Linked DNA regions of Homo sapiens: region 1 is linked to region 2. Evidence: fine-mapped expression QTL. Tissue or cell type: atrial appendage. Region 2 holds a variant in brackets; the other region holds the start of a gene. All regions are shown on one strand. Distances are between the middles of the regions.

Region 1 (8,105 bases), 430 kb before region 2:
ACAAATGTATTATCTTATAGTTATGGAGGTTAAAAGTCTAAAATGGGTTGTGGGGCTGCATTCCTCCTGGAGGCTTTCAGGGAAAATCCTCTCCTGGCCTTTTCTACCTCTTAGAGGCTGCCTACATGCTTTGGCTGCTGGCCTGTGTCATTCCAGCCTCTGCTTCCATCCTCCATCTCCTTCTCTCACTCTGACCCTCTTGCCTCTGTTTCACAAGCATCCACCAGGATAATCCAGGCTAATCTCTCCATCTCAAGATCCGTAATTTAATCACATCTGCAAAGACTCCTTGGTCATATTAGACAACACACACACACACACACACACACACACACACACACACACACACACACACACAGGTTCTGAGGATTATACTGGACATCCTGATGGGGGGTGGGGGAATGGGAAGGCACTATTCCGCCTACCATACCCTCCATTTGGACCCTTTGATATGACCTCCATATTAGGGTTTTTTTTTTCTGTTCTTTTACTGCTACCCCTGAGAACCCTGTATTTCCCCCCTAGTTCCAGGACAAAGTAGCCCTAAGCTTTCCATTTATCTGTTCTTGTCTACTGAATTAAATTTTTCCTTCCTTCTTTCCTTCCTTCCTTCCCCTGTCCTTCCTTCCTTCCTTCTCTCTCTCTGTCTCTCCTTCTCTTGTTGCTGCTGTTAAAATACCTGGCTTTTTTTTTTTTTTTTTGAGATGGAGTCTCACTCTCTTGCCCAGGCTGGAGTGCAGTGGTGCAATCTCGGCACACTGCAGTCTCAGCCTCCCAGGCTCAAGCGATTCTCCTGCCTTAGCCTCCGAGTAGCTGGGATTACAGGCAGGTGCTATTATGCCTGTCTTTTTGTATTTTAGTAGAGATTGGGTTTCGCTATGTTGGCTAGGCTGGTCTCAAACTCCTGACCTCAGGTGATCCTCCCGCCTCAACCTCTCAAAGTGCTGGGATTCCAGGCGTGAGCCACCGGGCCCGGACACAAAGTAATGCTACAGATTTATTTAATAAGCATTTAATGAGAACTACTACTTGCTATGAGGATGCTGTGAACAGATGCTGCCCCTGAAGCAATGAGGTTCAGCGGGGAGAGGGAGAAGGATCTCCCGTGAGAGGAGTGTTTCCAAGGAGAAGTATAGTGTGTAAGGGGAGTGAGTGTCCGCTCCTGGTCTACACTGAGGGCCTCCTTGAGTAGGTGACATTTGTCAAAACCTGGAATCATATCGGTGGAGCTTTGGGGCTCTTTTTCAGGATAGCATTGATCTCTTTCTGCTCGTTTCTGTTGAGGAGTTTCCTGGTGCAGAGGAGGCAGGAAGGCTCCAGGGACCACCTGTTAAAGTTGAGAGAAAAGGAGGGCCTTGGGGTTGCTAACAGGCTTGTTTAGATCTGGCCAGAGGATGCTGGAGGCTCATGGAGCACAGGGCTCTAGACCCGAGCATTTCTGCACTCTTTCTACCAGGCCAATAGGCTGTGCTTCCTTCCAGGAACGGGAGCAAAGAAATAGGCCATTTTCTGTTTTGTCCACTGGGTGGAGTATTTTAGCCAAAGAAGGGTCCTTTGGCAGCAGTGACATTGTAGGCGATCTTTGCCTTGGAGAAGAGGCAAGCTTGGACTCGTCCGGAGTCACGCCCATCAAAACCCTCCTCCGCAGCTAACACTCATCAGACTTCATCACACTGTGTGTTGGGCTGAGGCCTATCCTGGTAAAAGAAAATCTTATAACAGATTTTAACATCTTAGAGCCAGAAAGGGGGCCTTAGGAGCTTGGTGACTCTAACCCTCTTTCACAAATTGGAAGTGCTAGGGCCCGAGCCTCAGGGCTCCTGACCTAATCACACAGGCAGGCGGAACGCAGGTCTCCTGCCTTTCTGGGGGCGGTTCTTTCTCTGAGGCACCTCAGAGGCGCCCAAATGGAGACCTGCAGACCTTCGAAGGGAGGCGTGAGCACATACGTTTCTCTTTGTAGATAAAATGGTCTGAGAGAAAAATCATTCTGCCACCTGTCAAGAATAAACAAAGTAAATGAGCTAGGTTAGATTAAGGGACTGTAGTTGGCGGCCACTCACAGTGAAGGACTGGAAATGGTTAGCAAAACAAGGGGCCTACGGCATATATTGTGACAACAATAAACATTTATTTGTATTGATTTGTGTGTTTTGTTCTACCCCTTCTTGTTTAAAAACAAAACAAAAAGTACCTACTAATGGCACATAAAAATGCACACATTTCAGCACAACCACATAAACTAGAAGTACATGACACATTGGCTTGGGGCGCAGCTAAAGCTGGAACAAAACAGCTGATTTGCAGGATGTAAGGTTGACTCAGAAATGTGTGAAGCATTCTTTGTTTAAAAAATAAATGAATTGGCTGGACCTGGTGGCTCACACCTGTAATCCTAGCACTTTGGGAGGCTAAGGCAGGCGGATCACCCGAGATTGGGAGTTCAAGACCAGCCTGACCAACATGGAGAAACCTCGTATCTAATAAAAATACAAAATTAGCCAGGCGTGATGGCACGTGCCTGTAATCCCAGCTACTCGGGAGGCTGAGGCAGAAGAATGGCTTGAACCTGGGAGGCGGAGATTGTGGTGAGCCGAGATCGCGCCATTGCACTCCAGCCTGGGCGACAAGAGCGAAACTCCATCTCAAAAAAAAAAAAAAAAAAAAAAAATTAAAGTTGGTGAGCAATAAGACAGAGGAAAAACAAAAATAGGAAAATGAAAGGCAGACAGAAAATAAGCCTGGTACGTTAAATGTAAACTATGAAAACCTACCTTTTGCTGAGAGTGGGGCATGAATGTAGACCTCATATCTACCATGGATGCTTGGGGGAAACCTGATCACCACAGCATATGTCAGTGGCTGCATGTCCTCAGGGCTGGGCTGCCTGGCCCAAATCGAGTCCATGATCTAGGGGCAGGAACTTTCCACAGCTCGGGCTTTTTGTAGTAAACCAGAGTTGAAGGCTAAACTAAAGTTTAAAAAATTATTTCTTTTCCCTTATAGTTTTGTCAATTATAAGTCAGAAGGAAATTAAAAGACTCTGACTTTAAATAGCTTCCAATTTTTCAGTAACAGTTAAAAAAAACCTACTTACATATTAAGAAAAGTGGAGCAAATTCTAAATAAAGGTAACCCAGTGAGATCGAGACAACTGGGAACAGTCTGGGGAGGCTGACCTCAAAAAGACAAGACACACATTGTTTCACTCGGAAATCTTTTTCCCCTTAAATTTCCTAAAGAAAGCAGAGATCTTGCATGCTTGCCACTGACTTGGAAAGCTAAGTGCACCTTAGAATGGATATTCTTGGCTCCATCTTTTGAAAACTTAGAGACTACACCATTAGAAAGAACGGAATACCGTCAAGGGTTTTAGTGATGGGTTCTTCAAGGCCCCAACTTTCTGCACATGAGAGTGTAGCATCAAGACAACCCCTTATCAGCCTGACTCTCAGTGTAAGGCCGTCTGACTGCAGGGGAGCCTTGCTTTACTCAGAGAGGCCACGGATCTTCTCTTTGCCTTCTAGCCCCTGCAGAAGCTGTGCATGACAGAGTACTCTGTCTTTCCAAAGCTGATTTATAACTGAAGGAGAACAAAAACTTGGTCAGAATCATGAATGCCCTAGATGCCTTTGAAGAGTGGAGAGACATGACTGGACTAGGGTTGGACTGGAAGAGATGGTCAAGAAGGTACTTAAGAAAAGGGGTGTCTGCAAGGGAATCACCCAGAGTCAGAGGCAAAACAGCCAGGAGCAGCAGCTTTGAGGCAGGGTTGGATTCTTGCTCCGGCAGTTAGAAATGCTGCAAACTCAGACAAGTTGCTGTTAGCTCAGCGGTAGGATGAGCCCTGATCCCTTTTGCCCCAATTGCCTACTGGATTCAAGGAGAAAATGGACAAGAAAGGGTTCACAAACCATTCATATTAGAAACAGACAAATATCCATTATATAACCAATGTTCCACCAGCTCCAATGAGAAGTAAGTATAATAGCTACTATTTTTGAGCACCTATTTTGTGCCATGCTTTTTCATCTATGTGTTTGAAACTTTATGGTTATTATCAGCCCCACTTTACATAGAGGGGAACTGAGAATCAGAGAGGGCAAGTGACCCTCCAAAGTTCATTAGCTGTTAAAAGGCAGAGTAGGGATTTGAACTGTGAACCTTGTTTCATTTTAGTTTAATGAGGACAGGTTCTTCTGGTGTCAGCTGGGTTCAGCAGGGTGTCCCTGCACCCCTCGCCCAGTGGCTGGCAGAGGATTTTTAAGAAGAGAGGAGGGAAGGCAGAAAAAGACAGGAGTAGAACATGAAGAAGTCTACCTCGGGGCTCCATTTTGTTCCATGTTGCAGTGAGGAACAGAGGATGAACAACCACCGTGAGGGGACAGGCTGAGTTACCACCCTGGGGTGATTTAACAATTCAGTAATGTATGAGTGTCATTCCGTATGTTTGAACTCTCCATTTGCTTATTGGCACCATAGTCCCTTATCTCTCTCCCTCTCGAGTTTCTTTCTCTTCTTTGACCTTTCTAGCCTCCTTATTTCATGCGTGTACATTCTTGTCTTTTTCCTTCTGCCTCTTCCCTCTTCACCAGTCGGACAGACTGTATCAGCGAATCCCTCTACAGTGTCGTATCTAACTTTTTTATTCATTGCATGATTTATTTTTAGCCTGAAACAACTGCATCCTAAAAATGGAGTTCCTAATGAGACAGAGGCTGAGCAGAGCTATGTAAGGTATCTGGGGCTTGGCCTCCCAGCCTCCCTAGCTTGGCTGTTTTTCTACTCTCATGCGTGCGTGCGTGCGTGCGTGTGTGTGTGTGTGTGCCTCTGCTCTTTGTCCTGAGCCCACGATTCCAGAGCTGGCTGGACCCAAGGAGGTGAAGAGTCACTTTTCAGCCCCAGGAAGGGCAAAGAAGAGAGAAAATCAGCCTGTCTGCTCTCTCCTTGGCTCAACAAGGCCTCTAACAGTCTTCTGTCCTCTATTCTGCACACAGCATATTTGGGAACGAGAAACAAAAGTTTTCCCAAATGAAGAGAACTCACTTGTTTATTGTGGGGATTTATTTTCTGTCCTCTTGCAGGGCAGAAGAGGGGCTTAATTTCCCCACATATGATGGGAAGGACCGAGTGGTAAGTCTTTCCGAGAAGAACTTCAAGCAGGTTTTAAAGAAATATGACTTGCTTTGCCTCTACTACCATGAGCCGGTGTCTTCAGATAAGGTCACGCAAAAACAGTTCCAACTGAAAGAAATCGTGCTTGAGGTAAGTAACCAAAGGGCATGCTGTCTGCGCTGCCTCAGTGAGGTGCCGAGGGAATGCCTTTGGCCAGGGGTTGGGATATGGGAACGAGGATGCAGAGAATATATACTGAACTCTGCTTTATTTTGGCCTCACGTGAATCAGATGCCCTTGTCACACAGCTGGGATGTGTGAACAATGAGGGGTGGGTCCTAACTCTTCAAATGAAGAGGACCAAACGTGCTACACTACGATGGGTCTGATGTAAAGTCTTTATGGCCCCCTTGACTTTTCAAGGGCCCTTGTCCCAGCCATTGTTTCCCAGATAGAATGTAGAAACTATTGTTAAAACTGTTGGCTGAAATGAAATCCAGGGACTACTTGTGGATTTCATTCAGTGTGCCCACTTTGCTCCCTCAAATCTCCCCATGATCCTGGAGAGACCAGAGTTACTTGACCTTGCGTCTCTCTGGGGGTCAGACGGAGAATATCACTAAATGACTTTCCTCTCTCTTGTTTTGCGTCAGTCAGCATTACAGAATGTAGTTGTGTGCAGATCTTCTGAGCAGCATATTCATTTATGTGATTTTTTTTCTCAGAAAGTTCTTGGTGTGACTTTAGGGCAGAGCTGAAGTCAGTTCTTATTTTATCCGCATTACATGGCCTGCCTGTTTGTAACCTGGCACTGGGGCCCATTTTCTAATCCTTTGCGAGTGCCCCAGAAACTATTCCTGCAGCTCCTCCTGGACAGCTTAAGATGGCTTACACTTTAAGAGGGCCTGAGGGTGCCAAGAATGCTAGTGGGCACCAAGATGCCTCATCAGTCTCCACGCCTAGCCCAGGCGCAAACCTGTGAAAGGGATATTTGAGAATTACAGTTTATTAACCAGCACAATCAGAGAACTCAGGTTGATGAAATAGTTTAATAGGATTATCATATAAAACCCATGTGGATTTGAATTTTTTCAAATTGAAAAATTGACTGTAATAAAATCCAGCAAAACTATCCCAAATACATCAAAAGTATATCTCCAACCTTGGGTGCTGAATGTGGAATTTCAGTTCTCTCTGTGGGTTGCAAGAAAAGAGAAAGCAGGGATAGTTATTAAGACTTTATTTTATAGAAATGAGCAAATCACAGGCTGGAAAAGAACGAGACATAGAACTTAGCTGCTGCTTAGCACATGAAACCAACACTTACATTATATCTCCATCTCAAACTGCCATACTCAGTTATCAAGAGACATTGTTATGAAAACTTAATTGAAGGCATAAGGATTCTCCCCTATATGCTCATCGCTGTCCAGTTAGCCTAGAACTCCAAAAGAATGCCTTTGGGTGGCCAGTACAGGCAAGGACATTCATTTCTGATTCTAATTTTTTTTAAAAAAGAAATATCTTTCTATCATCCTTCTATCTATCTATCTATCTATCTATCTATCTATCTATCTATCTATCTATCTATCATCTCTAGCTCCCCCAAGTATATCTGTCCCCAAAGACTATGCAAAATCATGAACAGAAACTTCCCCTGGGCTTACCATCCCTCCAGACACCTTTGATCCAAGAGTGCCCTTTTCACAGTGGGTGCCGGCCCAGCAGAGACCGATAAGGAAAAGTTCACCACAGGAGTTAATTTGATGCCCCTCAGGCTGCTAAAGCTGGAGTGAGGCATCATTAGGAGAAAAAGAACACAGACCTTGAAGTCAGGATATCTGGATTTAAGTTCTGGCTTTGTCTCTACTAGGCACAGGACACAGGGCAAATTACGTAATTTCTCAGAGCTTCATTTTCTTATCTATAAATATGGAAAAATAGTAACTATCATGCAGCTTAAGAAATGATTAAATAATAATAATGTTGATTAAATGCTTACTAAGTGCAGGGACTGTTCTAAGCACTTGGTATGTGTTAGCTTGTTTAATCCTTACAATAATTCTATTAAGTAGGTACAGTTACCAATTCCATTTTATAGATGTGGAAACTGAAGCAGAGAGGCTAAGTTGTCCAAGGTCACACAGCTACTACAGATGAAGGCAGTTGTACGTAACACCTACACGGTACTACTCCTGAAATCAGTGCGAAAACGCCCAAGGGGCTTCTGGGTAGCCTGTTTAAGATGGTTTCAAGAGTCTTCCTTAAACAGAGTTGCTCAGCCTCTGGACCCGGGTCTGATGATGCCAGCTGTACACCAGCATGGCCGAGAAGTACATGGCCTGGAGGCGCTGCTCATGCAAAAGTGCAAACTGAGGAGGAGGCCTGGGCTCCATTAGTGAAGGTTGAGGAAGGGGCGGGCCTTTGTTGAGATACTTGTCAGGCGCAGCATCAAGGGAAAAAATGGCTCCGGGAAGTCCATGAGTGGAAAGAGCGAACATGCCTTTAAACTTTCTTCATGGTCAAAACATCTATTTTGTCCTCTTAATCCTCTAGACCCCACACTTGCACTAAGAAAAATAGTCTGTCAGCTTCCAGGGCTGTGGCTGTTAGGGGGTAGGGGGAAAAGAGGAGGCAGTTCCCAGTGTCCATCCAACAGGCAGTGTGGTCTCAGCCACGGACAAATAGCTGGAGGGGAGGCAGCTCCCTTCCCCCTCGCAGCTTAAGGCGGCTTCTGACACTTTTTATCATAACCGACTATGACCCAGTATATACAGACACACACAGACACACACACACACCAGAAACAAAAATTTCATATGAACTATACTTATTATTATTACTTGGGGAATTAAATTTTTTTTTCTATTTTTATCCTGTTCTCTTCTATTTCATTTTAAAAATTGATCTCAACCTATTAAGTTGATTTCCCTCTCCAGTGAGGAGTTGCCATCCCCAGGCTGAAACACCTGAGGAATTTCTAGGAATTA
Region 2 (8,108 bases):
GACATTTCATAGCGAGACAGTGGTTTTGAAAGTCAGTCATTCTTGTGAAAGAAAAAAAGGGGAAGGGATTCTGAATTTCTTAAACTCTCACAGATTATAAAGAGCCAGGCTTGGAGAGCTTGATCATAGAGTTTTATGGGAAAGGCAAGGTGGTCATCCCCTAGGGTACCCAATTGCTCTCACACTTTGGCCTGCACCTCAAGGTGGAGAGTGAGTATTATAGAAATAAACAGGAAGGAGGGAACCAGGTAACACTGGAGCGAGTGATCTGTTTCCCTGGGTTCTAGCCTCTGGGAGATGCCCCATAGTTGGTATGGTGCCAACATGGTGGACAGTGAGAGTGTGGCTTGATGGGGAGGTAAGTTCTCAGTGGAGACTCTGAGATGATGCTACTGGTTGCCTTCAGCCTGTGTGCAGTGTGCAGAGACAGCTAGCCTCGACATCATTCCTGATCTCCAAACTCCATATGTTGCACATATGTCCTTGAGTATTCCATGGGCCCAGCAAAATCCTAAATTGAAGACCCCTGCTTCCAAGGCCACTACATAGGCCCCACCTCTGGATGCTCCATCTCCATAGCCAGCACCATCATTTACCTGCTCAGGCAAATCAGGAATCCAAAGGGCACCCAGGAGACCCTTTTCTCACCCTACCCCTGCATCCAGCCATTCCCCACTTCCTGATGAATTTACACGCTAAGTTTTGTTTGAATGTCTCCTCTGCATGCTTAGCTCCCCATGCATGGATCAGGCTGCTGCCATCACCGTTCACCCTGACTATAACTACCGGCCCTAGGTGGTCTCTTTGCATTTGGTTTCACCCTTCATTATCCATGCCTTCCTCGACCTTCCCAGTGACTGATCCAGCAGTATCTCCTACCACGTCATGCCCCACCAGTTCTGAATCAGCTGCAGTTTCCCGTACGCAACATACCATCTCACACTTGCACACCTTGGTTAAAAGTGTTCCTTCTGTCTCAAATGATGTCCTTCCCAGCATTCTTCTCCTGGCTCCTACACATGCTTCAAAGCTTATCTTGGGCAATATCTCATTTTAAATGATTTATTGAGCATGTGTTTTGTGCAATATGGAGGGCTGGAGAAGCACCTAGAAAGGGCACTCAGTCTTGACTTGGAGGATCAGGGAAATCACCTGACTAGAAATGTCATTGAAGATTCTCAGAGCTGAGTTTCAGAGGAAGAGGAAATGGACAGGTGAAGGAGTAGGGAGAAGGCTAAAAGTTTTTGAAGCACTGGAAACACCATATAGGACCTGTGGGGCTGGTGCTGCTTGTGAAATGAACTGAAGTAAATTCACCACGGCAGAGGCTAGAGCAAAGAAAAGAAAGTAGCAAGAAAGGAAGATGAAGGGGCTGGAGGAGCCAGATGACACAGAGCCTCGTAAGTCTCTTCAAAGAATATGGAATTTATGCAAAATGCAATGGGATGACAACAAAGGCAAAGCTCTAAGTTGGTTGAATTTCCCATCTCTCCAGCTTCTAGATCCTCCCTTACAGATTTCTTATCAGTTTATGTGTCTGATGCCCCATTGGATAGTAGGTTCCTATATAGCAATAATCATTTCTTCTTGATCTTTGTTTCCTTGTACCTAACACAGATTCTACCCCAGGATAGGATTTTAATAAATGCAGTGAGCTCAGTGTCACCACTGAAGGGACAGAGATCTACCCAGGATGTGGCAGAGCCCATCTATCCCAGACTCCTGCATAGGAGCATCACAAATGAAAGTGTGGGGTTCTTGCCTGCCTCAGCACCACAAAACCTTAATTGTCAACATGATACCATGTGACAGGAAAGAGCAGCTGTGATGCTATGCAGGCAAACTTGATCCCTGGGGAATCCTGCCCCAGAGGTATCTCTTGGGTGGCCCTAATAGGAATGTACCAACTCCAGGGCCAGGGAGGGTTGTATAGTGAGGACCCAGATGGAGGCACACTTGAATTGGCTGTAGGCTCGTGAGGGACACTGAGGGTTTGGCTCAGTGGGAGAGGAGTGAGAGAGCCTCAGGGGACTCTGAAGAAAGCACCAGTGAAAGCCACAGGGTCACCAGGGGTTCTTGTGGAGACCAGTTCCTGTGGAGACTGGAGTCAGACCAGCCTGAAAAGGTGGAGGCTCACAGCTGTTTGAATCGGGACAGCAGAGGAGAGGATCCAGTCCCCAGAGGGCTCACCTGACTCTCCTTGCACCTAAGGAGATCATTGACTTGGTTGGCACTGACTGTGTCTGCATCTGTCTCACTCACCTGCCCTGCAACTCACCAAAATCACAACTGACTTTTATGGGCCTGGCATATAATATACATTAAATAATGCACATTTATTAAATAGGTGACGCAAATTAATATAATTTAAATTCCATGTATCTACTGGGGACTACTAGAGTGGGGAGGAAGGAAATGGGGCAAGGGTTGAAAAACTAACTGTTGGGACTATGCTCACTATCTAGGTGATGAGATCAATCATATCCCAAGTCTCAGCATCAGGCAATATACCCCTGTAACAAACCTGCACATGTGCCCCCTGAATCTAAAGTAAAAGTTGAAATTATTAAAAAATTTAAAAATAAAAAATTCTATGTGTTTATAGGCTGTTTTGTTCATTTGCTGAATCCCCAGCACCTAGAATGGGGCTGGCACGTAGCAGGTGCTTGAAAATTGTTTAACATATTCACTCCATATAATGAAAAGTAATTATTATTATTACGGCTCAAGGAGGGTCAATCTTTCTCCCAAGGACACACCACTTAAGAGGACAGATGGGCTAAATCTTGCCAGTTCCAAACTGGTGACTTTCCTGGGCTGCAGGAAAAGAGCTGAACTGTCCTGGGCCCACGTGGATTTCCTGACCTTTCAAGAATGGGATCTGTGGGGCAGCTGCCTGGCTGAGTTAAGAGCAAGGGCTTTGGATGGAGGGGCTGAGAGTCAGAGGAGAGGCAGAAACACAGTCCTCGCCAGGGCCTGTGCAGATTCGCTGAAACAAGAACCTAGGTAGTGCTTCGCACATAACACTCAAAGTGTTGGTGATTAAAGGAGAGGCCAGAGTTGAAACCATGCTTGGAATTATAAAATTAGTAGAAAAAAACACCTGGAAGAACAAGAGTGGAGGAGAATGTAAAGCCCCAGGACTGAGTTGTGGGAGGCCCATGAGTGCAGAGGGCAGATGAAATCAGAGAGGTGGCTAGTAAGCCAGGATAGTGTGGTCACAGGAGTTCTGAAAGGAAAGTTGTAGACAAAGGAGGTCATGAATAGAGTGGACTAGGACTGTCAAAGTCAGCTGAGCTTGGCTGAAAGGAGGAGGAGGCGTGGCATTTAACAGCAAGGGATTGGGTTCAATTCTCTACTCAGCCGTTTGGCTAGCTATGAGACCTGGGAAGTGACTTACCTCTCAGAGTTTCATCTTATCTACAAATCAATAGGACCAATTAATAAGGCTAGGAAAAATGCCTTGCCCAGTACTTGAAATAAGGCAAGCACTAGATAAATGCTGCTGAGATTGTGTTGGTGTTGGTGGTGTTCTTGCAACTAACGACCTTTAAAAAAAATTATCAGTTTAGTAGGGAGAAAGGAAAGGTAGGGGAGGAAGATGGGAACTTGGTTGCAGAAAGTTTCGGGGAGGGGGTGCCAAGGAAATGATGGGTATAGATTACCTTGCTGAAGAATTTGGTAGTGAATGGAAGCTAAGAAATCCAGAGTTTGGGCTAGCAGTTTCTTTAAGAGAGAAAAGGCAAGTGAATGTTCACAAGCAAAAGCGAGGGAACTAGTAGAGATGGAGGAACTGGAGATCTCAGCGAGAAACAGCAAAAGCCAGGAACAGGCCACAGGAGTAGGCAGGGATAGCCCAGAGGAGAAGGGGGCACCCCTGGCCCTCTCTGCACCCTTGCCTACTTTAGCTCCTTTACCAGCTTTTTCCTGTAGACTGAATTGGTCAGTTTTTCTCCCAGCCTCTTTCAGGGAGTGTAGTAAAAGGAAGGCTTGCTTAGAAGTCAAAAAGCCGGACACTGGCCACGTGTATTTGGCTGAGCCTTTGTCCTTCCTGAGCCCTTGTTTCTTCATCCATAAATAAGGTGGCTGGATTGATCATTTCTGTGATTCTGTGAACATGTCATCTCACTAAGCATTATGAAACATTTCCTCTTCTGAAGTTCTTCTTCACTCTGATTAGAAGGAAGAGGAAAAAAAAGTCTTTAAACGGAAGCTATCACTTCCTCCAGCAATTGGGACAATATTTCTGTGTTTCACATGAAGA[A/G]CTAGCAGATCCAGTGATTCCATCCTTGCTGGCAGATCTCTGCTGAGCCTGCTGGTGTTTTAAATAGCACATGCACTTTGTCCTGGCCTCCTGGAATGAAGCAAGGGAGAAGCCAGGGGTTTGTGCTAGCTGACTGTTGCTGTTGATGAGGCACTCAATGGCTGCAGCCTTCTAGATCTTCAGAAATAACAACAATTACTGTACACGCCACAATCTCTCCTCCAAGTCAGCAAATGCATCAGCTGCTGGTTATTTTGATACCCTGGATAAAAGGCTCTTTCGAGAAAATCTAGTACAGAAAAACATTCTTATCCTCTGCTTGTCTGCACCATTCCTCTGGCCGCTGCCCTCTCAGCTGTTTTTCATTCCTATGAATGTAGCTGGTCCAGGCCCAGAAGTCCTTCTCTCAATGACCCAAGAGAAGGACATTTCTGTTTGAACCTTCTTGAAAGTGGAAGAGGCAGGGGAAAAGGCACCTGGCTGTGGTCTCTGTGCCAAAGGCAGGCTGATCTGGAACCTGCTGGAAACCAATCCAGTGTTGGTGGGTTGTCTGACAGTCACAAATGACTCTGACCGTTGTTGGATTCAACAAGTATTAACTGAGCACCTACTATAGGCCAGGTCCTATGCTAGGACCTAGGGAAACTGTGATAAACATGGCCAGGGACTAATAATCAAGCCCCCACTAGAACATAAGCTCTCTGAGAGCCGGTACCACTGCCAGCACACAGTGCCTGGCATATGGTAGGCTCTCAATCAATAATCTTTGGAGTATTTTTGTGTTTGTTGTTTACATGTTCTTATTTACTCAAGATCCTTGAAGTCCAGGGACAGAAATAGAGGTAGTTAGGGGCAGAAAGGAGCTCTTATTAAATCAACATGTGCAAGAAGAATATGACCAACAATTTAGGGGGTGAGGATGGAGCATATAAGCAAACTTATAATCTGCTTACATCACTTAAAGTTTCCCCCTTACATACCACATGGAAAAGAACCACAAGTGTCCCAAATCCTTTTGTCCTTCTGAATGATGCCACAAGAACACATACAAATGCTCTGCATTCAACAACCAAATTCTCTGTTATTCTAAAAGTTTAATTTCATACCCAAATTCTCAGGCAGCTATTATGTAAGGCTTGGGGCTAGTGCTTTCCAAACAAGTTTATACATGACATGATTGATGGATGAATTCATCCTGTTATCTGGAAATTCTTTTGTTTAATTGACGATGATAAATTTCCTAATGGATCACCTCGACTATGATACTACTTTTGTAGAAAGGGCCATTCACAGTGTTCCCTGGCCTCTTGCCCTCACTTCCAAAGTGTGTTCATACACCAGCCTGTATCTGAACAAGTCAGAAGTGGACAAGCCTAAGGCTGGGAAACAACAAGGTCACACCAAAGCTAAGGCTGACTTCCAATTCCAGGGCTTTTTGCCTATTTCATCCTTCTCAGAGCATGTGTAAATGGAATGAACTTTCTTATGGGAGCAAACGTGAAAATAGAAAGAAGTAAGACCTCAAGACTAATCTGAATCAAGGGAGTTGGAAATGCCTAGTCAGGGCTTCATCTTGCTCAAGTGCCATCCATTAAGGGTAAATGACCACCCCCAGACTTAGGACAGGAATCATCTGCTTCACTAAATCCCAGTTCCCTGGAGGGTGCCCTTCTGCTAAGTTGCACTGGCTGGTGTTACCAGCAATAGGGAGATTCTGTGCCCCACCTTCCCTCCCTGTTACTCTCCTCACACCTACTTCTCCTCTGTGGCATCCATACAGGGTAGGGGTCCAACCCACCTTTGCTATAGGAAGAAGCGAAGGCACAGACAAGCTCAACACGGGAGGGAGTGGGGCTGTAAATTTCCAAAGAGCTACGAATCCCCTGGAATGCTACAATTAATGATGCACATTTGGTGACAAATTTGACTTCAGGGGTATTTCTCCCTTGCTCATTTTATGCTGGGGTGGGAACAGCCCTGGCAGAGGGGCAGGGGAAAGTCAGGCAAGCTCTCCTGTCAGGCTGAATCGAGGGAACTCAAGAAATTTTGAAGGGTCAGGAAGAATTTGTGTGGGGCCTGGAGTGTGGAGAGGGGGGCATGGGGGCCTAGGGTTTGCTGGCTATATCAGTCTGGGGTCACAGACCCCTTGCAAAACTGATGAAAGCTGCGGACCTTCAGCTCAGAAAAGAATATTAGCATTGCACACAGTCGCGCAAATCAGCCTACAGTTTCAGAGGGGCCAAGGACTCCGGGAAGTTCCTGGAACCCAGGGCCTTAAGTTAAGGTCCCGGCTCTAGCTCCTGACTCCTGAAGTCCTCTGCCCCTTGTCCCCATGCTGGACTTGCCGGGCCTGGGGGCCTTCTAGCTGGTTCTGCAGCCGCCTTCCCTTGTCAGAGGAGCTTGGGCACCTGCCCCTCGCGGAGCTCCCCCTGGGTGCTCACCTATCCTGGGATAAGGAAAGGCGCCCCGAAGAAAAGGAGCAGCCGATGCCTGGGGCACCGAGGGCGACGCCGGGCAGACCAGGGAGGCACTGGCGAAGGGCAACGCGCGGGGGCAGGGCGGAGAGGTGAGGGAAGCTGCGAGCAACTCCGCCCAGCCCCAGCCAGTCGGCCCAACGACCCCTGCCGGTGCCCCAGAAACTCCCCCTCCCGGCTTTGCGCGCGCGGCCCCTCAGACCCCAGTGGGTTTCCCTTTGACCTCTGAAGGTTTAAAGTCCTTCTCTGGCTGGGTCTGGCCAGCCCTCCAGGAGCGATCCGTCTGTAGTCCCCAGGACCCCCTCCAGCCGGGCACCACAGCCCAGCCACAGCAGGTGCGGGGCTGGTGGTGGGGAGGGGAGGGATGGGGGCCAGGATTTGGAGCGTGTGACTCAGGAGTACGGGAGGAGGGGCTAAGAATTCAAGAAGCCTGTGTGAGAGCAGCTCGGCGCTCCGGCACAGCAGAGAGCGCTGGGAGCCGGAGGGGAGCGCAGCGGTGAGTCAGGCTGCCCCGAGCCGATCCCGAGAGGGGCGCAGCGCGGGCGCGGGCAGGGGTGGCTGGGCTTCGCGGGAGAGTTTGCAAGGATACCGGTCTGGCGAGCTCTCTGGTTACCCCCGAGGCTCCCGCAGGCCGAAGAGCAGCCCTGAGAAATGTCCCGAGTGGGTGTGGGGGCGCGGGACCCTCGCGGGAGGACGAGTCGGACCGAGGGAACAGCGTTAGTTCTGGTCGTGGAGTCCCTAGTCCCAGGATGGCCTGCAGTCCAGGGAGCAGCCCTGGCGCCTGCAGAAGCCCACGGCCATGCCAGGGTCTAGCTCGAGGGCTAGAAGTGGATAACGCGCAAGTGAGGGAGAGCGAATGGGCGCGGAGAGGGATGCGCCGGCAGCTGGCGCGCCAGGGCGGGAGGAGTGGCGGCCAGCACCGCGGGGGGAGCGCAGAGCGCGCTGGCTGAGGTGAGCGCCGAGTAGGGAAAGTGCTGCGCGGCCCCCAGGTAGGGGGAGGAGCGGAACGGGGCGCGCTAGACCTGGGGCAGTTCCCTCAGCGCGTCTCGGAAGGGCTGGGAGTCGTGACTGAGGGCCCCGGGGGTTAACGCAGGAAGTCTGCGAGCCAACGCCGGGGTCCGTCCGGCGTACCGGGGCCCTCCACGGAGCCGCGTTGGACAACCTCAGGTAGAGGTCGCCAAGGTTCAGCCCTGCCACTTGGGTCACACGCTTCATCTCCAGCTGTCTGCTGCCAGGTGTGGGAGAAGCGGGCGTGGAAGGTTAGGGCGGGGAGCGCCTTGAGTTCAGGCGAGGAGGATCTAGGGGAGGGAGAGAGGACTCAGGGGTCAGGGAGCTGCAACTTTGAGCCAGCAGAAACAAGCAGCTTAGCT

The links. PIP is the estimated chance that this variant, and not a neighbour inherited with it, causes the effect.
Region 1: CASQ2 starts here. The variant in region 2 is fine-mapped to the expression of CASQ2 in atrial appendage (GTEx, PIP 0.99).

The regions. Positions count from the first base shown.
Region 1 is chr1:115,765,468-115,773,572 of GRCh38, reverse strand. It overlaps CASQ2 (calsequestrin 2), which reads left to right and starts at 4,859. Exons shown (of 11, transcript NM_001232.4): 1 at 4,859-5,265. The coding sequence starts at 5,032. RefSeq lists an enhancer at 1,547-1,806.
Region 2 is chr1:115,337,330-115,345,437 of GRCh38, reverse strand. NGF (nerve growth factor) reads left to right here and starts at 7,189. Exons shown (of 3, transcript NM_002506.3): 1 at 7,189-7,234. The region is part of intron 1 of NGF-AS1 (NGF antisense RNA 1); the gene reads right to left. The variant A/G (reference allele first, on the strand shown) is at 4,265.